Linked DNA regions of Homo sapiens: region 2 is linked to region 1. The links come from fine-mapping of genetic effects on gene expression. A gene starts in region 1. The other region holds a variant in brackets. All regions are shown on one strand. Distances are from middle to middle.

Region 1 (15,279 bases):
TGCCAGCAACTCCACGGGGGTGGCATTTGCCACAGCCCTGCCTCAGAGGGACCCAGCACCGGCACTCCTTGGGGGTCAGGACTTATCTTCAAGGGTGTCAGAGCAGTGGTGACCTCCTTAGGCTTCGGAAGACGCCCCCAAGGGGACCCCCCATCAGCTACGGGGACCCAGAGGGCTTCAGGTCCGGGCTAGGTAGGCACCGGGCAGCCCCAAACCCAGGTCTGAAGCCACGGAGGGTCCACTGATGGTCACCCGCCTGGTGAGGTCCTGTGGTCAGGGTGCGTAGACACACTCTGGCAGGCTAGCAATTCACGGGTTTCATTAGTTTGTCTGTATTTTTAATTTGCCGCCTGTGGCCTGAAGGAGCTGACCTTCCCCAGGGCTCTGTCAGGGATAGTTGAGGTTGGTTTTCCTGGGTCCAGCCGTCTGAGGGAGAAGAGAGGAGGTGAGGGGCCCTGGGAGTCTCAGCGTTGCGCCCCGACCCCGGGGGTGGCAGCCCCCAGCCCCACACATCTGCCTGCCAGTAGTACCAACAATCTGCCCGGGAGGGCACTGGGGCATGCAGCCTCTGCCTTGTGTGAAATTGCTCTGTGGCCCCTAGACAGGAGCAGGGCTGCTCTGGGTGTCTGTCCCCTCATCTGTGAAAAGAAGGGAGTAGCCCAGGGTTGCACAATCCAACTTCTGGGAGAAGGCTGGCAGCCAGGTAGCCTGGGGTGTCCAGCACCAGCCTGGCTACCAATGGCCAGCTCCTGCCCCTCAGGCCAGCCCTCACCTTCCACCCCTGGTGGCTTGGTGGGCAGGGTCCCTCCCTCTGGCCTCCGGCTTGGGTCGCTCTGTGGAAGTGATTTTTCCAGGTGAGGAAACGCTCATGCAGCCCTGTCCCTCCTGTCTTAGACGAGGAAACTGAGGCCCCACCAGTGTCTGTGGCACAGTGAGTTGCAGACGCAGCTGGGACCAGCGCCCGGGGGGCTCGTGGCAGCACAGTTGGCCTCTGAGACCTCCAGGCTCTGCTCCCTCCACTAAGCCCACAGCAGCCTCTGGGCTCTCGCCCTCCAGACCAGGGAGGGGTGAGCCCAGGCAGGGGCCTCTCACATCCCTTCCTCCATCCCTGCTCGACATGGTGCTGGCTGGTGGCAGCTAACCATGCCTCCTTTGCTGCTCTTATTCTGAAAGTGTGGGGGCTTAGCAGATGCTTTTTAGTGACAAAACAGAATTTCAGTGGCACTCACCTCCAAAAAGCATCAGCCCCTCTATCTGGCTGCGTCTGCACAAAGCAAGGTTGCTTTCCTCATCTCATTCTAGCTCCCTGGGCTTCAGTGAGCACTCAGTCAGGAATAATCCCATCCTAGGGGAGGAGGTGGAGGCTCAGGAAGGGTCACAGAGGTAGCCAGGACTTGTGTTGATTGGGTGGGTGGGGGGGCGGCCTGGCAGAGTGGGCTTTTCAATAAGCCTTTAAGTGAATTGTTAAATAAATGAATAATAAAAATGGCTTTCTATTTTCAAATAAAAAATAAAAAAGCTCTTGCTGTTGCATGCTCTGAGTGATTAGCATGATTAACTGTAATGACTCATTTCCTCCTCAGAAACATCCTATTATTACCCTCATTTTAAAAGTGAGAAGTCTGAGGCACAGAGAGGTTAAGCAACGTCCTGAGGCCACACAGCTACTAAGTGGCAGAACTAGGACCTGAATCCAGCCAGTAGGACCTGGCACTTAGCCACCCTGCCAAAACACCTGTGCAGGCTCCGGTCCACAACACTCTGCCCACTAGAACTTTCCGTGCCCAAAACACCTGTGCAGGCTCAGGTCCACAACACTCTGCCCACTAGAACTTTCCGTGCCCAAAACACCTGTGCAGGCTCAGGTCCACAACACTCTGCCCACTAGAACTTTCCGTGCTGCCGGGAACGTTCTGTATCTGTACCGCCCAAGATGGCAGCCTCTAGCCACATGTGGCTGTTGCCCACTTGAAATGTGGCTGGTGTGACTGAGGAGCTGCTCAGGGTGGGGACGGATGCAGCCCCCCATGCCCAGTGTGGGGCTCTAACAGTTTCTGAACAATGGACAAATGAGTAGCCCAGGGTTCAAAGAGAGACTCATGGCCTCAGAGGCCAGATTGCTCACCTGCCACAGACAGAGGAAGCAAGATGGGCAGAGGGGAAGGAGAGGACCCCAGCCCACATAGCCAGCCAGAGAGGACGGGCAGAGCCAGGCCTCCAACTACAGTGCCATTGGCACTCCCCACGCCGTGCCGTCATGTCTCCACTCCCCCATCCCTCTAGGTCTTCTTCCTGTGAGCAGAGAGCTGGCTCACATTTCCCACGTATGAGAAGAGAGAGCTCCTGCCATGGCTCAGAAGACTGAGCCGTGGAATCCACAGCCCCCTGGGCAAGGTTAGTCCTCAAATCCAGTCAACTCTTGATCCAGACTCATACTCTCCACTTTTGCGCTTATCAGAGGTAAAGCCTTAATCCCTGCCAGGCACTTGGCGCGGAGGCTGCCTCCTGCCCTGCTGTCAGCTGGTGTGTGCGCAGGGAGCGCAGGCTCATTTTAATATTGGCTGGAGCTAAACCTCATTAGAAAAGTAAATTTGCTGTAGCTGCAAAAAAAAAAAAAGCAACCCACATAACCCTTCCAAAGCTAAACAGAAAACACTAGATTTGGACTTTTGGATTATTTGATGTTTCACGTTCCCAGCACCTGGTGCAGAGCCTCCAACACCGTAAGTGCTTGGTCAGTGTTGGTGCAAGTGAACTGAATTTTGGGGGCTCTCTGACCACCCTGTCACCTTTCAGCATGGATAAGAAGGGCTCACAGATCTGGAATTTTGGTGTCAAGATTTTTTTTTTTAGACGACCATTTGCTGATAAATTGGAAGGATTACATTTAACAATAATTAGACACGAAAGTATTATTTTGTGTTTGGCAAGGACGAACTCTGAGCCAAGGCGGGCTCTGGGTTCTTTGGGTTGGGATAAGGAAGGGTGGGTCCAGCCCAGAGTCTGGAGGTGTGAGGACTCAAGCGGGTGAGGAGGGAGGTGGGACAGCCTGCACCGATTCCAGTGGGGTGAGGAGGGAGGTGGGACAGCCTGCACCTATTCTAGTGGGGTGAAGAGGGAGGTGGGACAGCCTGCACCGATTCCAGTGGGGTGAGGAGGGAGGTGGGACAGCCTGCACCGATTCCAGTGGGGTGAGGAGGGAGGTGGGACAGCCTGCACCGATTCCAGTGGGGTGAGGAGGGAGGTGGGACAGCCTCCACCGATTCCAGTGGGGTGAGGAGGGAGGTGGGACAGCCTGCACCGACTCCAGTGGGGTGAGGAGGGAGGTGGGACAGCCTGCACCGATTCCAGTGGGGTGAGGAGGGAGGTGGGACAGCCTGCACCGATTCCAGTGGGGTGAGGAGGGAGGTGGGATAGCCTGCACCTATTCCAGTGGGGTGAGGAGGGAGGTGGGACAGCCTGCACCTATTCCAGTGGGGTGAGGAGGGAGGTGGGACAGCCTGCACCGATTCCAGTGGGGTGAGGAGGGAGGTGGGATAGCCTGCACCTATTCCAGTGGGGTGAGGAGGGAGGTGGGACAGCCTGCACCGATTCCAGTGGGGTGAGGAGGGAGGTGGGACAGCCTGCACCTATTCCAGTGGGGTGAGGAGGGAGGTGGGACAGCCTGCACCGACTCCAGTGGGGTGAGGAGGGAGGTGGGACAGCCTGCACCTATTCCAGTGGGGTGAGGAGGGAGGTGGGACAGCCTGCACCGATTCCAGTGGGGTGAGGAGGGAGGTGGGATAGCCTCCACCTATTCCAGTGGGGTGAGGAGGGAGGTGGGACAGCCTGCACCGATTCCAGTGGGATTGGCTCCAGGGCTGGCCTGACGCTGCTACTCCAAATTCTAGAGCCATCCTCATCCTGGAAGCAAGGGGGTGAGGGTGTATAAAATAAATAGATTAAATTAAAATTCATCTAGTATTTCTTCTAAAAACTGGTGAGATGACAGTTTCCCAATTTATAGACTGCCAGGAAGCCGGGGCTTAGAGAGCTCTGTTTTTTTCAAAGTCTACTCGGCTAGCCACAGATGGAGATGAGACTGGACCTCAGACAGCCTGGCCAAGGGCCTGTCCCCACTGCACTTCTTCCATGTCCCCTGGCTAGTCTTCAGTAGGGTCCCCAAAGGTCTTTTTGCCTGGGGGCCTGGGGAGGGGGTGCATGACTTCTCTTCTTCTCCTGAGTGCCAGGTTTCCCCAGACCCCACATCCTTCCCCACTGCCCTGCATTCCAGGACCAGGAGGGCTGGGGCAGGGCCAGAAGATGGAGAGGAGCCCTCAGCATTGTGAGATGCTCAGGGGTGAAGGGTGTCCCTGAAAGTCCCTGCAAGCTCTTGATGTGCTTGACCTCATAGCCTGGCCTCCCTCTGCCTTTGGGCTTCTGTCTAAAAGACCCTCACATTCCTGAGAGCCACAGGAAAGCACCTTCCTCAGTAGAATGTCCAACTGCTCTAGTGAGGGGCCTCCTGCAGGGGTGGACAATTGCTGAGGTCGATGTAGGGGAACAGGGGGAGGCCCCCAGCCTGCCCCAACTCACCACTCAGTCAGGGAGGCCCTGACTTCTGCCTGTGTGCCTCCCTCTGCTGTCCGCCAGTGCGCCTCCGTGCCTTTGTCTCTTGTCTCACTGCCTCTTTCTCTGCCTCAGTCAGGCTCTCTCTCGGATTCCTCCTCCTCCTGAGCCCGTTCCTCTCCTCCTCTCCATTCTCATCAGAGAGGAACACTCATCCCTCTCTTCCAGAAACAATGGAGCACCATGCTCCTGTCCGCTCAGCCTTTCGGTTGGTGCATCCTCTTCCCCATCTCACACTCCCAGCTCCTGGCCGGCCTCATCACCCTGTGCTCCACACCTAGGAAAAGTATATCTGACTTGGTCCCCTTATCCCCGAGAAACCACTAAGAGAACCTTCAGGTCTCCCCAGAAGCCGAAGCTGAGGAACTGGGCTTGCCCCAGGGCATCCTCCTGTGAAGCTCCTTGGTCTCCGCCACGGGCTCCAATCCTGTTGCTGGAGCTTATCTCCTCAGTGATTTACCTGCCCCCTGCTTCTGGTGGAACAGTGAGTAACTGCCCAACCAGAAACCTACACACACATATTCAACACAGCGCCTGCAAGCTTCCAGCTCACCTGGACCTGGAGTGATCCCCAAGCATCCTGGGGTCAGGCACAGAAACAGGAACAGCGAGCTCCTGGCTCCAGTGCTGAATGGGGCACAGATGCATTAACTCTCCCAGTCCCATTAACCTTAGCAAGTATTTCTGCTTCCATGAAAAGGGGAAGAGGGAAAATGTCTCTAAGCTCTGGAACCTTTGGCAGTGCTGGGCATGGACTGGGCAGAGTGAGAAGTCTGTCTGAAGACCCTGGGAAAGGGTCTTCACCCCATGGGAAGAAAGGGAAGGCTTGATGTTTGGTCCAGTAAGGCCATTAATGGTCACCAACTGAGCAGACTCTGGGAGGAAATGTCTCAGTCTCTGCAGTGGCTACCAGCAGAGGTAGGGCGACATAAGCACAGAAGACAAATCTTAGAAAACCCTAGAACAACAGTCCTGTGCAGCCACATGCCCCACAGCCCTAGTAACTTAGGGAGTGATGTGCCTCCCATTTCCACACAAACACATCCAGGCATTGCACAGTGCTAGGCCCTACGACATCCGTACCCCAACATTTTCAACAGTGCGTGCTACACAGCCCAAGCTCTAGGCCCCATTGGGCACCCCACCTATGCAGGTGCCCATGCACTGGGCTAGCAACTGTCAGTAAAGGTCCCCTTCCTGTATGTCCAGAGTCCTTCAGCTCCAGCTTCTACAAGAATCCATGCAGCTAGGCCTGGCTGGGGGAGGAAGGGGACAGGGAAGTTGGCCAAGGCTCCCATGTGTGTGCATGTGGGGGTGGTTCTTGACCTTAGCTGCTTGGTACGGGGCTGTCACCTCCTTACCCTGGCACTGTCGGACCTGGTGGCTTCCTTCTCTATTTCCTGCCTCAACTCTCAGCCTCCTTTTTCTGGAAGTTGTGTGCTCTGACTTTGGAGGGATTGGGACCTCAGACCTGAGCCCAGGTGCAGATGGGAGGGTGGTGAACTGGTCGCGCCTCCTTCCTCCTTGCTACACCGAAGGTCCCAAGGGCCCTTTGCCACCCTTGCTACCCCTGGGTCCCTCAGCGCGCCCCGCAGAGCTCGGGCCCCCTCAAGAGAGTTAACTTGGCAGTGCCCAGGAGCCAGAGAGCGATCCAGAGAGCGCTGTTGGGCAGCAGGGGTGGGGAGGTGGGGGACGACTGACCCCTGACTCCTCATCCGGCCACCAGAAACCACCTGCTGAGGGGGCCGGGAACTGACGACTGAGAGCCCGGGCCGATTGTTAGAAGCTGCTGAGAACCAGCTCTTCCCCTAATCCCGGTCGACGAGGGCAGGCTGTGCCGGGTTTTGTTTCGCAGCCCCTCGGCAGCAGCGCCTCCCAGCCCGAGCTCGGTTCTCGGCCCCCTTTCCAGCTGCCCCCAGCGCGCGCAGCGCACACACACACACACACACACACACACACACACACCCCAGCGCGCGCCCGGGAGGACATGGCGTGGGCACCGATGGGGACGCAGAAAGGGGCTCTGTGCGCGGCGGGGCGCCCGCGGGGGCGCGGGGAGCACTGACCTGCGGCGACGAGTCCGGAGCGTCTCCGGTGCGGTCCATCGCGGGCAACGGCCCCTACGCCCCGGCCCCGGCGCCCCTAGACCGCTGCCCTGGGCCGCGTGCGGCTCCCTCCCCGGGGACTGTCGGGCTCCGGGCCCCCGGGGGCCACTTCATAGCCGCGGGGTCCGCGCGCCCGCCCGCCCCGCCCGGCCCCGCCGCCCCGGCCCGGCTCGTTCTGGGCTCAGCGAGGCGGCGGCCGAAGGCTGGGAGCGCGCGGGAGGGAGGGCGCGGGCAGGGAGGCGGGGGGCGGGGGGCGGGGAGGGGGAGCGGGGAGGGGGAGCGGGGAGCGGGCGCGGGGGCGAGAGGGGCGAGGGGGGCGCGCGGCCGGAGCCGAGCCGACCGGGCCGGCGCAGAGTCCCCGAGGTGGCGGCGGATGCGCCGGTGCCGCCGCGGCTCTGCCGGCGCCTCCCGCCCCGCCCCCACCCGCTCTCCGCCCCCGCCCCGCCCCCGCCCCGAGCCCGCGCCAGCGCCGGCGGGACCCGAGCTGCTAATGGTCGGTACCAACCTCGCCAGCCTAGGCGGGGGCGCGAGGAGGGAGGCCGGCGAGGGGACCCCCCCCCGGGATTGGTATCACCTCCCCACCGCCCCCCACCCTCCCCCGGCACCGTCCCCCGCGGAGGCGGCTCCCGCTTCAGGCGGCGGAGCAGGGGTGGCGGGCAGGGGCCGAGCGCACCCCCAGATCTCGGCTCTCGAGAGTTAAAGCTCGGCCCCCGCCTGCACCCCCATTCCACCCCGCCTCCATCCTGGCTGCTCCTGGCGCCCAGCTTGGCAGCCTCTCTCAAAGGGTGATTGTTTCCGGCCGGGCTGCTGCAGGAGGGCGGGGGGCGGCGCTCTGGGACCGAGAGGCCGAGCTGGGAAGCCGGTGGGGGATGCGGCTCCTTCCTTGGCTCCAGGCACCCCGGATGGGAGGTGGCCGGTGGGGGCGGACGGTGCCGTGCCGGGGTACGGGGTCTGCTGCCCCGTGGAAGGGCACCTCGAGCCGCCGCGCGTCAGCCTCACCCCAGCCTCCCCTTCCGGGCCGGTGCACCCGGCGTTCCGGAGAGAGGCCCGGGAGGCCTGCGTGGGCGGACGGGCGCGGGGAGGCCGGGGGCAGCGGGATCTCCAGGAGTTTCCCGGGCCTCTGCCGCGGTGTGTTGGTCGGCGGGGGACGGAGGCCAGTGAGTGGGCGCGCACTTGGACGTATGTGGGTGCACTGGTAGGGTGCCTCTGTGGAGCTGTATATTCCAGATACTCCTTCAGCTTGTCGGAGACTTTGAAGCCATCCTTGCACTCGTTTTAGAGGTTGGCATCTCCCGGTGCTCTTGGACACCTGTATTCGGGCCACACCCGCTGTGTCCTCTTCACAGCCCCAGGAGAAGGCCACCTCCCATGGCGGGGTTCGCGGCGGGACCAGGGACTGTCGGTACTTTCTCTAGGGTCTCCCTCCTTCCCGGGAAACCAGTTCCAGCCCCACTGCTAGGCACTGCTTAACCAGAGCTGTGCCCCCGTGCTATGGGCTGGGGCTGAGGACCACGGGCCTCTTTTCCATCAGCTTTCCTGCCCTGTTAGGACCAAGCCGGGCCCTGCTCTTCCCACTGAGGATGTGCAGGTGGGGAGGGGGCAGAGACTCCAGAATCAGCCCCTTTGGTCAAGATTTTGAGGGGAGGAAGGCACCTCACCGTCCGTATCATGCCACAGACATGTGAAAGTGTCCTTAGTGACTATCTCTAGGGATAACTGCTCCTCCTTGTCGTGCGCTCTTTCATTGTTGTGCTTAACAGCCCCCTTTGCCGGCAAGAAACTTCCTCTGAATCTAACCTCAGTACCTCCTGCTGCGGTACAGGAGCATTTCCCCCTTCTCTTAATGAGTGGAATCCCAGCCAGCCTTGCTCCGCCTTCTTCTGCCCCTACTACAACCCTCTCTTTTAGACTCTGCTAAGAGACCTTTCCTAAGTCGGTGTTCTCTGGTATTTTCCTAGTCTCCATACTCTGCTTCTCCTTAGACTCCACACCAGCTGAAGGGAGGGGAAGGGCAGGTGCAGAAGCAGGATGGGCGGGGGTACCAGAGAGCACCAAGGAGGGGCCAGGCCGTCCAGGAGGGCACATTGCCTCCCTCCTCTGCTAAGCCAGCCAGCCGCAGTCACACAATCACCAAATGGGAGGACAGAAATGACCGTGAAGACTGTCTCGTTCCAGACCCTCATTTTACCAACAGGGAAACACACCCATGAGGGGTGATCTCAAGAGAGCTCAGGGACATGGCGACGAGGAGGCCTGGGTTTCAGGCCGATTCTGAAGGCACTAGCAAAAGACTTCCCCTCAGGGCTGGTTTCAGTAATGAAACAGAGGGTTGGACTAAGTGGGCTGTGGTCCGACTTGTCCTGCTGGGCTGTGGCTCGGAGATGCTGTCTGCAGGGGTTCTCGGCTTTACCTCAGCATTCTGGCAGGAACAATTGTGATAATAAAGCCGCTTTCAAGGGACCTGTCTTGCATCTTAGTTCCAGGCTCTGTTTACAGAATTTTTAGTATTAATTTTTAGAGCCAATTTAAAACAATAATAGGAGATTAAAATTAGCATGATAAGGCTCAGTGAAGAGACAACAGCCTGCCATTCGTTTTGGTGGGAAGTTTTGGCAACATCCCAAGTGTATGGACACACACAAATGTACTGACATCTACGCAGGCACAAAACATGCTCATAGAGGCAGCTACACATGCAGATTCACCCACATGAACACACACACACACTCTGAAATACATCATGTGCACATGTAAACGCTTGCACACGGATGTACCTGAAGCACCTGCACCCACACAGACACACGTGTACACACACCATCCCCCGGGTCAGCCACACTCCCACCCCTGTCTTCCTGCTTGGCCTCTGCAGGACTGTGGAAATCCTTCCCTCCCATGTCTGGACTTGGTGCATCCTCACAGCTTGACCCTTGCTCCAAACATCTGGAGCACCTCTAAGGTCTCCCTGAATGATTGATCTTCCCCTCCCCCTGCCTTCCCTGCCAGTAGTGAGCCCCTCTTCTCAGAGGCCCCCAAAGCCTAGCACCAGCATGTTTAGTATGCAAAGCCCGGGTTTGTCCTCTGGGACAAACCGTTATGTGTTTATTGTGTAGTTAAGCAGGACGGGAGCCCTGCCCCCGCTCTGATCCTGGCCCACTTCCCATAATCTGAATCCCAGAAGAGTCCTGTAAAACCGTCATCTGCAATGCAAAACCTGCAAAACATCTGGGATGGTCTGTAGGTTTTCTCCAAATCACCTGTGCCCTAATTTAATATGAATAACAATTAGTTTACTCTTATCAGTTAATTGTTCCCCTCGTGGGTTCTGTCTGCCCTGGCCTCTCTTTCAGCAGGAGTTTTGGTCTGCTCCAGACTCCTAATGATACTGCCTTTTCAGCCGTGCCGTCCTTCTTAGCTACCACCCAAGAGAGGCAACGCAGCTGCGCTGCTTGCCGCCCTGGCCTGTGGGGCCCAGGCCCTCACCCCACCCGTCTTAGCCAGTCTGATTGTTGGGGGCCATCCAATCTCCCCTTGCCTTCACCAGGAATCTATAGCAGTGATTTTGCTGATGTGAGTGGAAAGGTCCCAGTGGGATTCTTCAGTGAGGAATCCCACCCCACAAGGTGCCCGTCCTCTCCCGTCATTGCCCTGGCAAGGGTGACAGCACATGCACATGCATGGGCACACCCAGATGCTGCCAGAGAGCAGGGGGAGTGAGAGGAGGAAGAGCTGCCCTCTGCCTCGGCAGGCAGGGTGAGCTCCCCAGGGACCCAGCCATGCTATCAGGCGTGTCTGAACTGTTCCCACAGTGGCTCCTGGACGGATGTGTGTGGATGTGCTGTTTTGGGTGGTGGAGTTCATGGCCCAGATACAGAAAGAGGAGGAGACCTTTTAACTCTTCCCTTTCATTAGGTTTCTGGTCTGAGCTTTGGATCTTGAACACCCTTGTTTGTCCATAAAAAATTGAAAATGGTCATGTGGTCAACAGGTTTCCCTCTGCCCTCCTCTCTTCTCAGAAGCCAGGCCGGCATCTTTCCTGAGCTGGTGCAAAAAGGCTGACTCCTGCTTCTCTCCAGTCTCTGCCTCCAGGGAAAGGGTGCAGTTACATGGCTTTAGAACACTTCAGTCATGTCATTTTGTTTTGCCTTCTTTCCTCTGTGGCTGAGGGAGGGATGAGAGGTGATAGGAGCAGAGCCCTCAGACTTAGGGGAGCATCTCTGAGGCTAACCTGGGACCGTTCTTTGTCCTCTTGCAGAAGTGAAAATAACCCAGATTGCCTTTTGACCTCCCCACTATCCCCTAACTACTCTGCAGAGCCCACACCTCCAAAGTCTCACTGAAGCCTTTCCCAACCTGAGCTCTGTGGCTTGTGCTGTCTCCTATAGCCCTCCCGACCCTCAGGCACCTCTGGCAGTGAACTGCTCTTCCCCTCAGTCCCATAGCACTTTATCCGGACACATCTGGAGGCTCTTACCCATCTGTGCATGCTTTCCTGTGTTCAGCTAATATTTACTGAGCTCCAGTCATATGCCAGGCACTGTGCTGGGCACCAGAGACATGCAGTAAACAACAGCAATTAGGAGTGTTAACTTCAATTAGGCCATTTATATGTATGCACCAGGTTAGGTTCCAAGTCTTCATGCACGTTAGCTAATTTCATATGTAAGGTGTTATTTACAAGGTACTGTTTGTGACAAGTTTCGATTATAGTTTCCATTTATAGGTCAGGAATCTGGGGCGTAGTATTTAGGTAATTTAATTAAGGTCACATGCCTAGTAAGTGACATAGCCAGCATTTGAGGCAGGCAGCCTAGTTCCAGGACTCAGGCTCATCGTCAGAGCACAACTCAGGGATTATATGCTAGTGGTCCATAGATGGGCAAATGCACAGAACAAACAGAGGTGGAGGAGATACAGGAAGGGAAGAAATAGGGTCAAGAGCTGGAGAGAGTCCTGGGAGGGTAGGATCAGGGAGAGGCTCTTTGAAGAGGCCATGTTTGAGCCAAAACCCGGGGGAATATTGGCCCAGCAAGGAGGACAGCGATAGGCGACCTGAGGGGTTTGCGGGAGGCTTGGTGTGCTTGAGGAACACGTGCAGCAGGTGAGGCTGGAGAGTGGAGAGAGAGGAGAGAGCCATGGGGAGCGGAAAGGACACTCTCTGCTTGGAGTTTGAGGATTCATGTGCGTGAGTGACCTCCTGCACTAGCGTCTTCCAGAGAGTGGCTGTTCAATAAATATGATGGATGGAGTCGTCTAATTTCCTGCCCAAACTCCCCTCCGTGGCTTGGGTGATGGGCAGACATCCTAGACCTTTGGGTATTAGTAGAGCATCTGCAGAAAGGACTCCTTACCCTTTCCTTTTGGGATTTGGAAGAAAGAAAAAAGGTGCTAGGAGTCCTGCCACATGGATGTGCTGATTCCATTTATTCATTCATCAAAATTCTGAGCAGCTCCGATGGCCAGGAATTTTGATAGGTGTGGGAAAGACAGAAATGAAGGGCCAGCTCCTGCTTATGGTCCCATGGTTTTCTCCAGCCTGAGGTTTCAGTGTTTCGCTTCTAGTGTCTGCCCTTCCCCATGTGCCTACCACGGATTCTTCTGTCTACTGTCTGCCCTTCCCCATGTGCCTACCACGGATTTTTCTGCAGGGGAGAAGAGCCGGGCAGAAGGCTGAGCTGTTGAGAAGCCACACTGAGACCTGGGCAGGGGCTGCTGCAAATGTCAAAAACTGGGAGAGGCAGAGGGGTCTCCTGTGGGCAGCAGCCTTCAGAACCTTTTTGTGATCACCCAAGGGGTTGGGGTACAGCGACTTTTTGGATGGAAGAGGAAGAGAAGACCATAACACTTGTTGGTGAATTCAGACTTACAACAGTGGTTTTTGTTCAGGCATATTCTGAAAGAAAGGCTGCATACTGAAAGGTTTGAGAAGCGTAATTCAACATATTGGAAGATCTCGCTCCTCCATTTCAAGATGACTCAGGCCGGTGACTTTCTTTCTGTTCCCCTGGAGCCAACAGGGTGGCAAAGTTGGGAAGAAAGACACTTGGAATTACTGGACATTGATGTCCTTTGCCCAACCTGCATGTGGTCTGAACTATGTGTTATGCCAGATAGGAAAAGAGATAACTCACATCAAATACTTCCTGGCAGATTCCTGGCTGATTGTGGGAAGCTGGCGGGACTGAAGAACGTTTCCCTGTTGGCTTTATGAGACAAGAAAGAGTCTGGCAGGATTTCTGGGAAGTGAGAGAGAGGAAATATGGACCCGTGAATAGAAAGCATGTTGAGTGTTAGGGACAAAGCTCCTCCCTCCTTAGATATTGAGAAAACATGATGGAGCTAGGCCACTGGAAACCCTGGGTACTGCTCTCATCAAAACATGAAACGGTTGGTCCTTCACTGAGATCCCAAAGATCGAAGTCCTGGGCCTACTGCCCAGACAATTAGCTCCCAAGCCTCTGTGGCTGCACCCATGCCTGGAGCTGGAAAAACTGCTTTTTATCTGATTACGACTTCCTGGCTGAAAACACTCAGGGGCTCTGTAGGGAACTGGTGATCTGTCCTCCCATAGCCTAGTGATAGATTAAGGGTCTAGGGAGTTAGGGAGAGCTTTAATAGGGCCCCCTGGGTTTGAGCACACATCTGACAGTTGTAATCCTCCAGCTATGTTTTCTGCAAACGGATGGTCATTTTGGGCTTTCTGGTCTCTAATCCTTCATTCAGCAAAGCAAACACCCTAAATCCTCAATAATGTAGGTTTTACAGTCTCATATATACATATCCATGTTTCAGCACCGAGGCCAGCTCCACTCATGCGCGGCATATGTTCCCGCATCTGGATGTAAGCAGTATCAGGACTCTGGAAGCCGAACTTGGGTTTGGCAGGAAGGCATCGCATTGTGGAAGCCAGGTGACATCCACACGGAGCCCTTTTTCCAGGCATTGTCATTGTGTTTCTTTGAAAGAGGCAGGACCTTCTTTAAAGTGACAGCTAGATAAGGCATGTGAGTGGAAACTGTACTATTTGGGGAAGGACTGGAGAAGGTTAAGAGGACTCATGTTCCCAAGGAGGGGGCTGAGCTGGATCTGGGATGGCAAATCAGTTTTATCCTGGATGCAGATTTCAGTAAACTAGTTGTAGCTGGGTGAAATGTACTGAAGCTACATCTGTGGTAAGGAGCACAGGGCACCATGACCAATTAGTGATGTCTGCCTTGAGTGGGTGGCAGGGTAATCACACACACACACACACACACACACACACACACACACAGAGAGAGAGAGAGAGAGAGAGAGAGAGAGAGAGAGAGCAGGGGGGCCATTTCTGGTTGCTAGGTGATATTTAAGATCCTTTTAACTTGTCATATTATATGTCTGTAAAAATCAATAGTTCTATATGTTCTCATCTTTCAGTTCCTCCATTTTTTGTTTGCTCACTTAACCACCATTTACTGGGTGCCGCTAGATGCTGGTTACTGGGCAGTACTTCTTACTTACCCTCGATGAGCTTACGGTCTAATAGGGAGAAGGGACAATGGAAGAGTTACAATGCAGGGGGATAAAGACAGTGTTCTATGGGGCTGATGGCAAGTTCCTGGTGTAGAGAAGGTATGATGGAGTCCTGGTTCCTGGTCTTCAAATCAAGGTGCAGTTGTCTTTGTGTGATGGTGGCCCAACTGGCAGAACTGAAAGCCGATTTCCATGAGTTAGTTCTGTTGTGCAGTGAGGAGGTCCCCGGCTCCAGGCCACCAGTTGTTTGATAAACCTATGCAAGGCTTTGTTAAGTGACATTTGCCTGTTGACGTAGCTGGGACAATCACACAGTCCTCTCCTAGGCCTGGCCTGGTGTGGCCAGCCACAGACCACCTGGAGATGTCCACACTTGCTAGATAGGAAGGCCCAGCAGAGCCTCAGTGTGAAACCACCTTGAGAGCTGCAGTGTTGTTTTGCCAGGGAACTGGAATGTCCACATTCTAGACTAAGGATTAGGGGCAGGATGGGAGTGTCCTGGCAGTGAAAGCACCTGGGAAGACCACTAGAGATGCTTCTGGAAACCTAGTGTGGGTGACTTCTAGGAGTCTCCAGGACAACCCACTTCTAATGACCTATAAAACCACCATTATTATTGTAAATCTCAGCAGATTGATTTGTGATAAACCAGGCTTGAGAAACCTTAGGCAGTGGGAAAGTAGATATTTTAACTTTACAACTGGACATATTGAGGATCCCGGAGGAACGAAAGTGGCCAGGCCACATCTTAGGGCCTAGCCCTCCAGCTCCTTCCTCCACAGGCCTAGAGAGCCAGGACATGACAGCATCAGGGGGCCTCCCAAGGCTGACACTGAAACCCCATCCATTCATGCCAGTGGTGAATGGTGAATCTCTCTGCCTCTTTTGAAGATCTCACAATTAAACAGGCAGAGGAATGTATTTCATAAAATATGCATACTGTTTGCTTTGTACAAAAGCATTTTAATGTCTTTTAGCTCGTAGCCAAGATGAGCAATAGGAGGAACAATCTTTCACTGCACATGAAAATCAGTCACCAGGCAGTGGTGCCTTTGTGGAG
Region 2 (15,279 bases), 30 kb before region 1:
GTTTTTGAGGAGACGATGGCGGGCCCTGCATTACAGTTCACGGAAACCCCCCACCTGGGCAGGAACCAGTACATTAAGTGAGCGGTGGCACCCCCTCCTGCTGGTGCCAGTGGGAGACTGCCGCCTCCTCTTGACCTGAAGCCTGGTGGCTGCTGCCCCACCCCTCACTGCAAAAGCATCTCCTTAAGTAGCAACCTCAGGGACTGGGGGCTACAGTCTGCCCCTGTCTCAGCTCAAAACCCTAAGCCTGCAGGGAAAGGTGGGATGGCTCTGGGCCTGGCTTTGTTGATGATGGCTTTCCTACAGCCCTGCTCTTGTGCCGAGGCTGTCGGGCTGTCTCTAGGGTGGGAGCAGCTAATCAGATCGCCCAGCCTTTGGCCCTCAGAAAAAGTGCTGAAACGTGCCCTTGCACTGGACGTCACAGCCCTGCGAGCATCTGCTGGACTCAGGCGTGCTCTTTGCTGGTTCCTGGGAGGCTTGGCCACATCCCTCATGGCCCCATTTTATCCCCGAAATCCTGGGTGTGTCACCAGTGTAGAGGGTGGGGAAGGGGTGTCTCACCTGAGCTGACTTTGTTCTTCCTTCACAACCTTCTGAGCCTTCTTTGGGATTCTGGAAGGAACTCGGCGTGAGAAACATGTGACTTCCCCTTTCCCTTCCCACTCGCTGCTTCCCACAGGGTGACAGGCTGGGCTGGAGAAACAGAAATCCTCACCCTGCGTCTTCCCAAGTTAGCAGGTGTCTCTGGTGTTCAGTGAGGAGGACATGTGAGTCCTGGCAGAAGCCATGGCCCATGTCTGCACATCCAGGGAGGAGGACAGAAGGCCCAGCTCACATGTGAGTCCTGGCAGAAGCCATGGCCCATGTCTGCACATCCAGGGAGGAGGACAGAAGGCCCAGCTCACATGTGAGTCCTGGCAGAAGCCATGGCCCATGTCTGCACATCCAGGGAGGAGGACAGAAGGCCCAGCTCACATGTGAGTCCTGGCAGAAGCCATGGCCCATGTCTGCACATCCAGGGAGGAGGACAGAAGGCCCAGCTCACATGTGAGTCCTGGCAGAAGCCATGGCCCATGTCTGCACATCCAGGGAGGAGGACAGAAGGCCCAGCTCACATGTGAGTCCTGGCAGAAGCCATGGCCCATGTCTGCACATCCAGGGAGGAGGACAGAAGGCCCAGCTCAGTGGCCCCCGCCCCCCACCCCCCACGCCCGAACAGCAGGGGCAGAGCAGCCCTCCTTCGAAGTGTGTCCAAGTCCGCATTTGAGCCTTGTTCTGGGGCCCAGCCCAACACCTGGCTTGGGCTCACTGTCCTGAGTTGCAGTAAAGCTATAACCTTGAATCACACCCCCTCTGGTGATAGTCTCTGGTCATGTGTGCCACTCTTGCCAGAAGGGAAGGCTGTCTGAGAGCTTGGTTTTCTTGGTCAGGTTCCCATTGGGCCCCACTTGCCGCCTGGGGGTCCAGATGGGGACCGTCCCTGGGGTGGGTGGGCCATGATCCTGGCCTCATATTCCCCTCCTGACCCCGACTTCCCTTCAAATGTCTCTGGATTGGAAGTGCCCTGGAGAGGACAGTTCAAATGCAAATTCATTCTCATGCTGGTGGGCGGGGGTAAGAATCTGCCAGGCAGTCAAGGGCGCTCCATATGAGTTAACTGCGGGGTTGAGTTTTGCTTCACAAACTACATCTGGCATCTACTGCCAAAACCAAATTATCTCCAGTAAGAGTCAGAAAGTCAAGTAGCACACACATCCCCGGCACAGCGAGAGCTCTGGGAGCCCCGTGAAGGTGGGCTGGGGGATGGTGAGCCGTGGAGCTCACTGAGGCCAGCAGGCTTGCTGCCCGTGTGTGGCTGCCCAGGGGGAGTGCAGGGGACATTCGTGGTGTGCAGCCCAGCAGCTGAGCCGGGTCAAGGGCTTATTAAATGGAGCTTATTAAAGGAAAGCTTGTGGACAGTGGCTTGGGAACAACATGGGGCAGAGTCCCTGGTTTTGCCCAAACTCACCAGTTCTTCTGGAACTGCCTCGGAACGACAAGCATGGGGCTAAGATGTGGATGAGACTCGGGCTACTTGGGTGTGGCCTGAGCCACCTGCAGGGTCTTCTGCCCCGCTTTACCTGAGTGTGTGCTTCTGCAGAGCTGTGTATGAGCTGGTTCCGTCAGAAAGTGATGGAATGGAAGGGAACCTTCCTGCAAATCCTCCTGTAAGGTGGAGAAGCCCCTTGGATCACACTTCCACGCAGACCTGAGCAGGACACACTGTGGTTTCCTAAGGTGAGGTCTTCCTACACCAGCTTCTTATTCTCACCCTTATTTTCTGCCAGTTAATTGCTCAGCTTCTCTATCAAAGTACCTCTTGGCAGAGCTTATTCTCCAGCGTTGACTAAAGATGTTTCCATTATCTTCCACACGGTATGGCCTCATCTAGGTCTCTTTGGAGAATCCCTCTTCATATCCAGCCTCTGAATGCTGGGGGTCTCTGGCCCACTCCTTGGGCTGTTTCTTTCCTCTGTCCACACTCACTGCATAGGGTCTCACCCGTGCACCTGTGGTTTGTAAACAGGTTGGACACCCGCGCCCGCCGATGCTGGGCTGCACCTGAGCTCCAGGTGTGTGGGGGCGCATTTTCTTCTGCATGTGTCTAACAGGCACCTGACACAGAGCTCCATTTCCCCACATTACCCCTCCTGCACGCAGCCCTGTATCTGGAAATGGCAGTGCTGTTCTGTGTCTCGGGCTATTTTGGACCCCTCTCTTTATCTCCCACATCCAATCCAGCAGCAGATCCTCCTGGCTCTGCCTCCTAAACTTGGCCAAAATTTGACTGCTTCTCTCTGCCCCAACCCCATGCCCCCACTCAGCCCACTGCATCTTGGCCTGGATGATTCCAGGAGCCACGTCTCCACCTGCCCTTGCCCTCTCCATTTATCCTCCGTGGAGGAGCAGGGCAGTTCTTCTTAGAGATGGATAGATTATGTTAGTCCTCCGTACTGGACCCCCTATTGCCTTCTGGTTTCACCCGGTGCCTGGGGACTCCCTTCTCCCACGCCCACCACATCCCTCACTGCTGTTGCCCCCAGCAGCCCCCGCCCCGTCAGTTGAGCCCGATGGCCTTCCTGCTGATCTGTAAGCAGGCTGAGCAACGCTTGTTCCGCCTGGTGGAGAGTTCGTTCTTCTTGGGCCCGGGGAGCTGCATGTCAGGGTGTTGCTGCTTCGCTCAAGGGTCACTTATCACGGAGGCCTCTGTGGTCACCCTACAGAGCACTGACCCTCTCCACTGCTACCTCTGTCTCCCCGACTCACCCTCATCCTCCATACAACAGATTGCATCTGAAATAATATGCATTCGTTATTGCCTGTCTCCTCTCGTCAGTGGGTCAGTTCTTTGAAAATGAGAGCCTTGTTTTCTCACTGCTGTGTGTCGGCTCCTAGAATGATGCCTGTTCATAACAGGCACCTGATACATACTTGTTGGGTAGCTAAATTAATAAATGAGAACAAAATAAGGCAGGGCTGAAGAGGATTAGGACTGTTAAAAACTGTATTTGACTTTTAATTTTGAAAGCAAATTAAATACAGTTAAATTAAAACAGACCAGATGCAGCTGCCTGGGTGCCACCCTCACCCCAGCCTCTGTTCTTAGAACTCCTAGCCCCTGGCCTCACTCCTGTGTGGTGGGGCTTGCCAGCGAGGGAGCAGGGAACAGACTGGGTTTGGAAAACAGTGGTCATCATGGACCCATTTCTGATTTATAACAAACTCATTCCCAATAAAGATGAAGGCTGCAGTCCACCAGGGTTATAATTATAAATAAATATACATGCAGCTAAAAGAGGATATTAGGTGAAAACAACTGACCTAGCATCTGCCCAAAGAAGTCCCCATTTTGTTGTTCATTATCAAAGTCCTGAAAATGAACCCTAGGTTTTTGGCTAAGAAGGTGGCCTCAGACCAGCCAAGCTGACCTTGGCACTTGGCTGGCTTCTGTGAGGCAGTAGAGTGCCCACACATAAGCTCACCACCTGTGCCCACCTCCTCCCTTCTCTCCCATGCCACCCCACTTGCTTCCAAGGGCTTGGTTTCCAAAGTGACATCCAGGGTGTAAGAGGTTGGGGAAAACGTCCTGCAAGGTGGCTCAGGGATCTGATTCCATCAGATGGTCTCATGAATACTGTGGGAGATTAAATCCATCTCAAAATAGGCAACCAATGCTATATTCTGAATGTTAGGTCTCTGGACTGAGTCCCACCCACCCACCCACTCAGGAGTGGGTTCTGAATGGCCCTCAGACCTCTCCTGGTGAGTCTTAATGGGGTGGGAGGCTGTTAGTTAAAAAATAAACACCTCTTCAGTAGGCTGGGGCCCTTTCCTTTTCCTCCACTTGGGGGGAAAATTGTGCTTCCAACTTGCAGGAGAATGAGCCGGATCACCACTAGAGAGCCCGGCTGGGCCAGGGGGTCAGAGCCCTTTCCAGTGGGCCCCAGAGGCCTGGGGAGGGCAGGAGTTTGAGGCACACTGTTCTTTCTCCAGGATGGAAAGTGGACAGCTGGACATGAGGTGGGCTAGCTCTGCATGCTCCTGACTTAGGGAGAAATAACATTTTCTTTCCCTTTTTTGTGTTTAGAATAATTTCCAAAGCAGTGTGCTCAGGCCTCCCTCCTGCTCAGTGTCCCAGCAGCCCCTGCCCCCTCTTTCCCAGCCCCTCTGCTACTCCAGAGTCCCTCCTCCTCAGACCAGGGGCAGGAGGGAGTTAGGGAATGGCCTTGGCCTCCCTCCTCTTTCCAGGCTGCAGGAGGTCCCACCTTGCCCACCACCCACCGCCTTGCCCACTGCCCACCATGGGCTCACTCCACCCTGAGGTCTGTGGCTCTGAAGAGCTGCAGGAAAAGGCGCTTTCCCTCCCCAGTCCAGTCCAGGCGAGGGGCCTAGCAGCCGAGGTGGGCGGTGGGGAGGCAGTGTGTGGACAGTGGGGCCGTGGGGTTCTTAGTCCAGGTCAGGCAGTGACCTGTGCTGGCTCTAGAGCCTACCCCTTTGCCACTGCTGGAGGAGAAGGGGTAAAGGAAGAGGGGCCGGAGGGGGGGACTCTGCTCCCGCCACAGCCTGAGGTACAGGGGGTGCCTATTAGGCCCAGGCTCCCCCCATGCAGGGCTGGGTGCCTGTTGGGATCCAAGACAGCCTTATGCTCTGTAAACGTGAACCAGAGGAGAGCCACAGAGGTATGTCTGATTTGGGGGCAGCTCTCGGGAAGAGCAGGGGCCCAGGAGAGGAGCAGAGCGCTCGTGATGCCCGTGGGCTGCTCTCTGGTCTTCAGAATTCCCTGGCTGGGTGTCCTGTGTGGTCGTGCTGAGCCCAGGGACAGGGAGCCAGGGAGGGCCATGCTCCACTTGACTGCGGGGTCTTCTTATCTCCCTCCCGCCCTGCATCACTGCAGGGCCAGTGTGGGCGCCCACTGCACCTGCTCCTGCAGCCCCGTCAGTGCGGGGAGCTCTGGGGAGGTGCGCTGGAGCACCAGCTTGGCTGGTGCTGGACACCCCACCCTGGCCATCAGGTCTCTCGGGCCCTGGTCACGCTGGATGGAGAGAACAACAGGTCTGGGATTTCTGTGCTTAAATTCTCTGTCCTTTGTTCTGGCATCAGGCTGGGCTCTCTCAGAAGCCCCCAGAATAGAAAGGAGGGTGATGGTGATTCCTTAGGAGTCGGCCTTGGAGGGACCATCAGCCGTGGGGAGAGGATGGAAGGCCAAGAACAGGGTCTGAGGAGGAGGCTCCTGTGAGGGGAGAGGAGGAATGAGTGAGGTGTCGGCTGAGGGTGGGGCCGGGGAGGGAATGGCCAGGCAGGGCCACCAGGACCTCTGCAAAGCCCAGGCCCCCAGGTCCTGTGGGGGCCTTTCTGAGGGGCAGGTGGGGAAGGTGCTTCCAGTGAGGGCAGTGAGGGCAGGAGGCAGAAGTGAGGCTCGGTACAGATGCATTCTAAGTGGCGCTGGCCAAGGTGACTGAGTGACACCCTGTGGTCCTCTGCGGGCAAACACAATACAGAAGCTATTGCTTAGCTCCAGGGCAAGAGGACAAATGTCTGTCTCAGGCCTCAACCTCTGTTTGGCATAACCTAGAGTAGGGAGTCAGGAGTACCAGCTGCTTTTAAGAGACAGGATAAGATCACAGAAAAGCCCCTGAAAATGCCTGGCTTTGCCAACCACCCAGCACAATTCACTCGTGCCAGTGTGTCACCTTGGAACATTCATTTAGCTTCTCTCAACATCATTTCTTTGCTTCTGAAGTGTAGGTGGATCCTGTGGCCTACTTCCAGAGAGGGCTTTAAAGACTTGAATAAAAATAGCCACACTGATGAGATTTAAGTGCCATGAACTGTTCTAGGTGCTCTCAGCAACCTACTTCACAGATGAAGAAACTGAGGCCCAGAAAAGTCAAGTCAGGTCAAACAGTGAAGAGCAGGGGTCCTGGGAGCTGAGGTGGGCTCTGGGTCCGTGCTGTCACTCTGCGCTACCTCTCACTATGACAGCCGTGGGCTCATTGCTGTGGAGCAGCGAGTCCGTGAGTCCTCACCATGGCCACGTGGTGAAGGAATCCACAGGGGAAGAGGCAGACTTGGGGGGACAGACGCTGGCCAGCGAGAGTCTGAATGGCAGTGCCTTGTGGGGTGCAGGCGTCACTGCCAGCAGAAAAATCAGCAAGATGTTTGGAAGGTGACACCCTCTGAAGAGTCTGGTGGCAGAAGGACCCAGCTGCGTGGGTGAAAGTTAATGCCTGGATACTTTCAGGTGGCCCAGTGGGAAGGGGACTGTGGTGACGACGCCCTCCACTCCTGCCCACATCTGCCCTGTCCTCCACAGTGAAAGCCCAAGAGGAAAAGAATGAGACAGTTGATTCGGCCCAACCTGGTGCCGCCCTGCCCAGTGTGTGGCCCACCCTCGTCATGCCCATACCTGCATCCTGAGGCTCAGATCTCCACCGAGGGGTCAGTGAAGCCCTTCTTGCCCTCATTCACCAGCACTGGCTTCTCTGTCCGTGTGTGCCACACCAGGATCTGTGTGCCCAGAGATGCAAAACATGGTGGGACAGGCCCCTGACCTCACTCTGCTGCCTCCCTGCTCCCTCCCACACTGTGTAAACATTTCTCCTGCCCCTCCTTTTCCTTCGAGAGTTTTTCAATTGTTCCATCAAGATTTTCTCAATTGTTTTTTATTTATTTTCTGTGGCTCTCGACTACCCCCTCATTTTTGCTGTTTTTACATGTGATGCCTTCGGAATACCTGCTGGAAATGGGAAGTCTAGAACTACAGAAAAGAGAAGCCCCAAGACTTCCCAAGTGTGTGTGTGTGCATACGTATGCATGTTCATGTGCATATGTGTATATGTGCATGTCTGTGCATGTTCACCTGCATATATGTGTGCATGTGTGTGCATCTGCATGTGTGTGTGCGCACATGTGTGCACGCGTAGGCATGTGTGTGTGCATGAGTGCTCAGCAGGGAGGTGCTGGAGCACGGCTGTTCTGTGGGAGGTTATAACTCCCCAGTGGCCATTGCTCTCCCTTTCCCTGCCTGTCCGCAGTGTCGCTGCCTTACAGGTGATACACTGCCTTCCTGGGAGGGGGTTCCAGAAAGCCCAGGCTATTTTGAGGCCTCTGTTTCCTTCTCCCGATCTGTAGGGAGGGTCTGGATGTACTTGAGACATTGCATCACAGCTGTCAGTTCTGCGGAGGGTCTCACCTTGGTGCAGTTGGCTGCCTTGGGCTCCAGGTCGTTGAGGGTGACAAGTTCTCGAAGGAGGCTGCTTTCCTGGTAGCCTCCCTTCACACCTCGCAGCTTGAAGTAGGCCTGGCTTCGCTGCAGAATGAGCCGCAGGTTGACGGCAAATCCAGCCATGTCTATTGCAAATGGCCGGTGGGGGTCAAACACCGTCTTCCAGCCGACCACCTTCCCTGCCCCGTTCACCCGTGGGGCCTCGTACCGCAGGCCACCCACGAAGGCGACGGGCCACACGGACACCCTCCTGGTGCTGCGCATCTACAAGGGGGGGGTCCAGAGTCAGGGCGCCGGCACTGCAGATGAGGACGGCCGCGCGTGCCCAAGGGAGGCGACATCCTTCAGCCACCTCTATCTATGCCCATGGCCAGCCGCGGCCACCTAGGGGGTGTCCAGTACAGCCCTGCCCCCAGGACCCATCCCATGGGTTGGGCACCTGAGAAGAACCTGCCCTGGGCTGCCGGGGACACCTGACCTCTCAGACGGCCTGGTCTTCCCCTTCTCAGCGTGGCCCTGCTGCTGTTTTCTCCCTTGTCTAAAACCTTTCAGTCTCCCCGCTCTAGAGTGTGAAGTGACTCCCCTTGTCCCCGAGACTAACACAGCCCATATACTCAGGCGAGCTCCAACTGTTCCACCTAAGAGGTTTCTGGTAGTCACGCAGAATGACCTACTCACAAACCCATTCAGGAGATACCTCTAGGGCCAGGAATATGGTTTAGGGGCTCCAGAGCCACCTGTCTTCCCCCTAACTTGTGGGGGATGCTTTAGCCCGCAGTTCCATCCCTTTCCCTGGCTCTCTGCTGCCTGCCCCGCTCCCAGCCCGGCTTCCCGGGTTCCCCCTGCGCGCGCCTCCGCACCCACACCCCCTTCTCGGGAAGCCCCTCCACTCCCCGCAGCCGGAGGTCCCGCTGCTCACTGTCGGGCCCTCCCTCACCTCTTCGAAGAGCTCCAGGCTGTAGGTGTTGTCGTCGTCGGCGAAGTAGACCACGCCAGGCTGGCTGGAGTTGCGCGGGAAGGTCTCGCGCAGCCAGCGCAGGGCCAGGTTGCGCTGCATGGTGCCCCGCGGGATGCGTGGGTCGCGGGCGTCTCCGCGCAGCTTGTAGTTGCGGGGCGTCTCCACGTGCAGGTGCGTGTAGTTGAGGCCGGTGTCGCGCAGCAGGCGCGCGGTCAGCGGCGTCCGGCGCGGCGCATCCTCCACCACCAGCCAGTGGAGGTTGGGCACGTGCAGCAGCGTGTTGGCCATGCGCGTCAGCTCGGCCTTCTGCACCGGGCGGCTGTAGGTGGGCGTCACCACGTGGATGGTGGGCAGCGTGTCGGACCATGGCGGGGGCCGCGTGTACACGTACTCGGTGCGCACCACCTCCACGATGTCGCGGTCAGACGTGCAGTACTCCCTGGGGTCGGCGCCGGGCGGCGTTTCGCGTCGGGGGTCACTGCCCTCATCTGCGGAGTCGGGAGACCGGCGATGTGGGAGGAGAGCGCCGGCTACGGCCCTGGATTCAGAGCGGGACGCCACCCACCCTGCCAGGGCACCCTCCTCCTCCCCCGCTGCAGGGGCTGCTCAGACCCCCGCCTTGCCTGACCTGTTAGCTCTAAGGTTGAAATCTGCAGCCCTGGAATCCTCTCTGGGAGGGTCCTAGCTCTGATGACACAGACATAACCTCTTCCTTCCCACCTTTGCAGCCCTCTAGCTATTTGAGCGCAGTTGCCCATATTCCAAGATTGCATCCTCAGTTCCTGAATGTGCTGACTTTCCTATGAAAAGGCGTCCCGACCCTCCCCTCCCTAGCCCTACTCATCTGGAGGGAGCTGGCCACACTGCCCTGTGCAGGGCTGGGCTAGCAGAGCACGTGGCACTGCCCCGCTGTGGTGTGGACGCCACAAAGCCCCAGGGCCGCAGCACTGCGGCAGCAACCAGGGCCCACTGTGGGCCCGCAGGAGCCTGAGGCAGCTCCCGGAGTTCTCAAGCCCTCCAGTCAAGCGGGGCCTCTTCCCTCCTGGCCTTACGTAAGGCATTCTCTGAATCTCGGTGCAGAACTTCCTATTTCACCGCATTTTATTCTCGTGGGTTTTGCCCATAGTTGCCAAGGTATATGTAGATCTAGCAGTCCTAGCAAGAGGAGAAATCAGGGCCATTGGGATTCTTGTTTTCCATGCGTCCCTTCTCTCCAAATTCTGTCCTTCCATCGGAAGGGCTCATGCACCAATGACGGTGTGGCCCTCCTGTCCTAGCTTACCGTCGGGTGGTAAAGGTAAGAAATCCCGGTGCCTGGGCTGAGACCCTGCCCACTTCTGCCGTTACGAACCCTGTGCCCTTGAGCAAGCTGCTTAGCTTCTGGCGCCTCAATTTCAGCAACTGTAAAATGGAGCTAATAATAGCATCGAACTTATCGAGTTATTATGTGGATTAATGAGTCCACAAGGGCTGAGAGCACCGCCAGGCACAGTTTCCTCTCTTGCGGAAGGGCAGTGGCCAACTCTGCTTCCTTCTGGCTTCAGGCAATCGGTGGGGACAGAACCAGCAAGTCACACCAAAGGGGAGGACCCCGGGCATCAGCTCTTCTGCTGCCTCCCTCCGGCCACTGTCATCGGCAGCATGTGGGGTGTGTGGCACGCTAGCGTGGAGCTCATCTGAACGGACCCAGGAGGCCTGCTCGTGGCTCTTCAGGAGTTCTCATGGGCAAATGGCACCAGGCACACAGCAATTGCTGAGGGTCGGGGGAGGAAACCAGCACACACGCAGTCGCTCAGAGGGGGCTGCTTAGAGGAGTCTGGGGTCAAACTGTGAGAAGAGCAACGTGGAAGAAAGCGGGATGGGTGTCTAGGGTTCTGACCTAGACAGAGGACTTAATTCATCCTATGGGCAGTCAAGTTTTGGAAACTGAGGCCTTGAGAGGAAGTTTGGAGCCACTTTGTCCACCTCTCTGCCACCCAAATCATCCCAAGGCCGCAGAGGACCTGTGCCCTTGGACAGTCCCCATACATTAGGGCACGGCTACTGCGTGTGCTCCTGGGCTTCGCCCTTCCCATTGGCTTCAGGGCGTCTGCAATTTTGGGTCCTAAAGGCCTCCTGGTGACCCTAACTTCACTCAGCTGCAGCTTTCATTCGCTTGCTCTTGGCATGCTCTGGGGAGACAGAATGCCAAGTCCCCAGCCTCAGGCAGCACCATCAGTGCTTAGCAAACAGCCTGACGTCTCCAGCGCTGGAGCTCTGCCAAGAACGCAATCGACACGATATCATGTCGCTTTATATATAGTAGTTTTAACCCCTCTGGAGTGATGTATTTGCAAGATAACAATGATTCTGAACTGACAAGCACAGAGAAGAGGCCCTAGGGTCGGGAGGAGAGGATGATGTCAGGAAGACAGGCGCCAAGTGCCAGCCACGGGCAGTGGGCTGCCGCAATGTTGAGCTTGGCCCTTCCTCATGGAAGCTTCAGGAACAGCTATGGGTTTGCAGGACTTGGTATTTGACTGTGAGGAGCAGCACGACTTCAGGCTGTGATTTTTGGACACTGCCTGCATCTTGGGGTTACAGGCACTCACCACCTCTCTCTGCATGGGCTTGGTGCTGCCTTCTTGTTTATCACACTGCCAGGTGGTATCATGCACGCTGCAAACGAACAGCTGCCTGACCCCACGTGAGCCTGTGCATGTAAGTGGGGGAGGGGGCAGAAAAGCACGAGACAAAGTGCTGAAGAGCTGGGGCAGCCAGCTGTGGGGTGCGTGGCAGGTTTGGGAGTGAGAGGGAAAGGCGACCCAGGACCCAGAGCCAGGGGAAAGGAGTTCTACCCCTAGTTCTTCCACTAGTTCTTCACGGGACTTTTCCTCTCTCCAGCCCTATTTCCACCAGGTAGCACTAGATCAGGGTTTCCTACACAGGAAAAGAAGAGAGGCAAACAATATACTCTCTGTGAAAGGGTTTAAAACACACTGCAGGCCAGAAATCCTATTCCTCCCCCACCATCCACTTCAGAATGGTCGCTTTCCTTGCATGTCATGAAATGGCATGTGAAGTTGTACATGCGTGTCTTTCTGTGTATGTGTGTGTATTAATGATGTTTGTTTTTTAAGTTTTTCTGTATTTTAAGATGCGTCGACATCTTGGGGGACTTGCAGATATGGGGAGGGACTGCCCCTCCCGGGACTAGCTAATTCCTAGTGACAGTACACACCTTGCCTGCAAACACACTTTTCATATGCAAACTACCTGATCTAGAGCTCATACCCACTACCACCTTTATGGAGCTCTCCCACCCAAGCCAATCTTCCGCTGCCCTAAACCACCCCAGGGCGATACCAGACAATTAGAAACCACACCCATATCCTAAACCCACTGACTTTCTTCAGACTATGCAATTCTGGGCCAGCTCAGCTGCCGACAGTGCTTCGCCCTTCCCTTCCTATGAAAACCACTTTCCTTCCTACCAAAACCACA[C/G]TAAAGACTCCCACTCCCTCCACTTCCCACCTCCCCCTCCCTTCACTTCCCACCTCCGACCTCAGCACTTCCCCAGGGGGCAGGGCGTGCCCCCTCCTCTTGGGTGCTGAGAGTAACAAGCTCTTCTTTCAAGGCAACTGTCTTGGTGTCTGCCAACCTACCATCCCAGGCATCTTAAAACTGTGTGGGTAGCTTCCATTAGCTTCCCATTCCCAAAGGGGTGCAAGACTCATGAAGGGGCCTAGATGATCCCGTGGTTCCTCCTAGCTGCTAAGTGAGTGCAAGCAAGAACCCTGCGTGTCAGCTGTGGTCACTGTCACTACCAAGGCCCAGCTGGGCAGGCAGGGCATGCGTGCGTGCTCACCCTTATGTACCGCGAGCAGGGGTGCGAGGGTGCTCTGGTGCCAGACAGTGATGAGCAGAGTCCAGGGCAGCACGATGAGGACGATCGCTAGGATGTCCCGTCTCTTCGGCATCTCCAAGGCTGGCTGCACCCACGGCTCCTCATTACCTGAGTGGCGGTAAGTTCAGGAGAGGGGCGGCCACGGGCGGCGGCAGCACAGGGGAGAAAAGAACAGGCATGGGCCGGGCCGGCCAGGCATGGAGAGGACAGAGCAGCTGAATGTTGGCTAGCAGGTCTTACCAGCACTCACAACCCACCCATTGCGGAAGCAGGTTTGGAGAGTCCGGCCCAACTGGAGTCTGAGAAGGGGTCGCTGTCCAGGGGCAGGGGTCAGGAACCCTGGGGGGTGGACACCTGCAAGAGAGAGCAGAAGCGGATAGCCAGAGACCCAGGTATAGGAATGGATGCCAGCAAGGCTGGGCCCTGCTCTGGGACACACAGCATCGGGGGTTCCACAATGGAGCCTCAACTGTCCATCACCTGAGGACCTCTTTTGTCTGCCTGTTAGAGTGGAATGGGCTCTGTCCTTCCCACAGGCACAGGGCCATGGCTCTGCTCCATTTATGAAAGTCAGTAGGGTGCAGGGGTCAGAAGCACAGACTGCAGAGACACCAGGTTTAAATCCCAACTGTGCCACCCACAGGCTGTAAGACCTTTGCCAAGTCATTTCCGTTCTCCATGCCACAGTTTTCCCATCTATAAAATGGGGCACTGTGGATCCCTACCTCATAAGGTCATTCTCAGAATTAAACAGGGTAACTCCCGTGCAGCCCTAAAATGCCAGCTACTTATCAAAGCCTGGATAAAGGGGTGAGAGGTTTTATTTTCTCTCTCTCTTTTTTCTTTTTTTTAACCATATATGGACCACGAATTATTATATTAAAAATAATTTCAACATTTTAGATTTGGGGGCACATGTGCAGGTTTGTTATGGGTCATATTGCATGTGATGCTGAGATCTGGAGTATGATGAATCCCGCTGCCCAGGTATGAGCATAGTACCCAACAGGGCGTTTTTCAGCCGTTCTTCCTTTGAGAGTCCTCAGTGTGTATTCTTCTCATGTTTACAGTCATGAGTACCCAGTGTTTAGCTCTCACTCATAAGTGAGAATGCATCGTGTTTGGTTTTCTGTTCCTGTGTCAATTTGCTCAGGATAATGGCCTCCAGCTGCATCCAGGCTGCTGCAAAGGCCATGATTTTGTCCTTTTTTATGGCTGTGTAGTATTCCTTGCTGTATATGCACCATGTTTTCTTTACCCAGTTCACCACTGATGGGCACCTAGATTGATTCCATGCCTTTGCTATTGGGAATAGTGCTGCGATGAACATACAGGTGCAGGTGTTTTTTTTGTGAAACACTTTATTTTCCTTTGGATACATACCCAGTAATGGGACTGCTGGCTAGAATGGCAGCTCTGTTTTAAGTTCTTGAGAGATCTCCAAATTGCTTTCCATAGTGGCTGAACTAATTTACATTCCCACCAACAGAGTATACGTGTTGCCTTTTCTCTGCAGCCTCATCAGCATCTAATATTTTTTGGCTTTTTAGTAATAGCCATTCTGACTGGTGTGAGATAGTATCTCACTGTGGTTTCAATTTGCATTTTGGTGACAGTCTTTTGAGGACAAAGAAGAGATGTTTCTGGGATGGTCCCTGGGGGGAAGTACGAGAGTGCCTTCCTCTTCCGTGTCAATAGGACATCCTTGTGGAGCACCGCTCTGTGCAGGACAGAGCACCAGGTGCTGGGCTGGGCAGCAGCAAGAAGAGGGGTCCCCGCAGGGGCTGCCACATTGAGGGGAGACAGTCCTCCAAAATGAGAACAGCAGGGGGCCCAAGTGAGGAGAATGAGCCACTGGGATTCCTCAGTCCTGCAGAGGGTCCACTGGTAGCATCTCTGGGAACCGTTCTCTCACATGGCAAGGACACTGGGCGAAGAGACCTCCTGACCGCCTTGGAAACTGTCACATCCTCTTCTCCTCCCTTTTCACTTCTGTGCTGAGCACCATGCATGATGCAGCAGGGACCCGTGGGGGTGGTGGGGAGGGCAGGCAGCCTCGGGCAGCCCAGCCAGCCTCACTGTGCCCACCCGTCCCAGTGCCCAGTGTTGGATACGGACAGTACCTCACCTGGGGGCCATGCTGCCTGCTCCTGCCCCAGCTCACGTGTGCTCACCATTTCAGGCAGAGTCGAGTGCTATGGCCGAGGAGGGTTTTTAGCCCCTGAGTTTCCAAAATAGCGTGTTTTCCTCTCCTCACCGGGTCCTCTCTCCAAATAGTTCTGACGCCTGTGGAAGACCAGGATTTGTCTTCCATTAAGGAGCACTGTGGTTTCCCGGGACGGCCGGCATCCCCTCCATTAAGGAGCACTGTGGTTTCCCAGGACGGCCGGCATCCCCTGCCCACACCCCGCCATCAGAGGCCCACTCCATCCAGAGAGTCTCCCCCACCCATTCCCCGGGGAGTGGAAGACCCACTGGGGTTCAACGTCACAGGCACGTAGTTCCCCTAGTGGACATTCTAGGCCGTGTGTGTCTGTGTCCGCCCGTAAACTCCTCTTTGCTGGCCCAGTGAGGGACAGAGCCTAGAACCCCACACGGGATGCCTGCTGGGTCTTGTGGTCTGAGATGCAAGTGACTTCATGCCACATCCCCCAGATTTAGCCTGTCCCT

What was found. PIP is the estimated chance that this variant, and not a neighbour inherited with it, causes the effect.
Region 2: its variant is fine-mapped to the expression of B3GAT1 in blood mononuclear cells (TOPMed, PIP above 0.99).

The regions. Positions count from the first base shown.
Region 1 is chr11:134,405,133-134,420,411 of GRCh38, forward strand. B3GAT1 (beta-1,3-glucuronyltransferase 1) reads right to left here and starts at 7,110. Exons shown (of 6, transcript NM_054025.3): 1 at 6,675-7,110. RefSeq lists an enhancer at 5,699-6,258.
Region 2 is chr11:134,374,978-134,390,256 of GRCh38, forward strand. B3GAT1 (beta-1,3-glucuronyltransferase 1) reads right to left here. Exons shown (of 6, transcript NM_054025.3): 2 at 12,571-12,963; 3 at 8,703-9,211; 4 at 7,733-8,029; 5 at 6,947-7,047; 6 at 3,531-5,770. The coding sequence starts at 12,682. The coding sequence ends at 6,961. It overlaps GLB1L2 (galactosidase beta 1 like 2), which reads left to right. Exons shown (of 19, transcript NM_001370461.1): 19 at 1-1,347. The coding sequence ends at 81. LOC124902798 (a long non-coding RNA gene) reads left to right here and starts at 1,819. Exons shown (of 2, transcript XR_007062961.1): 1 at 1,819-2,277; 2 at 3,087-3,364. RefSeq lists an enhancer at 1,484-2,383. The variant C/G (reference allele first, on the strand shown) is at 12,207.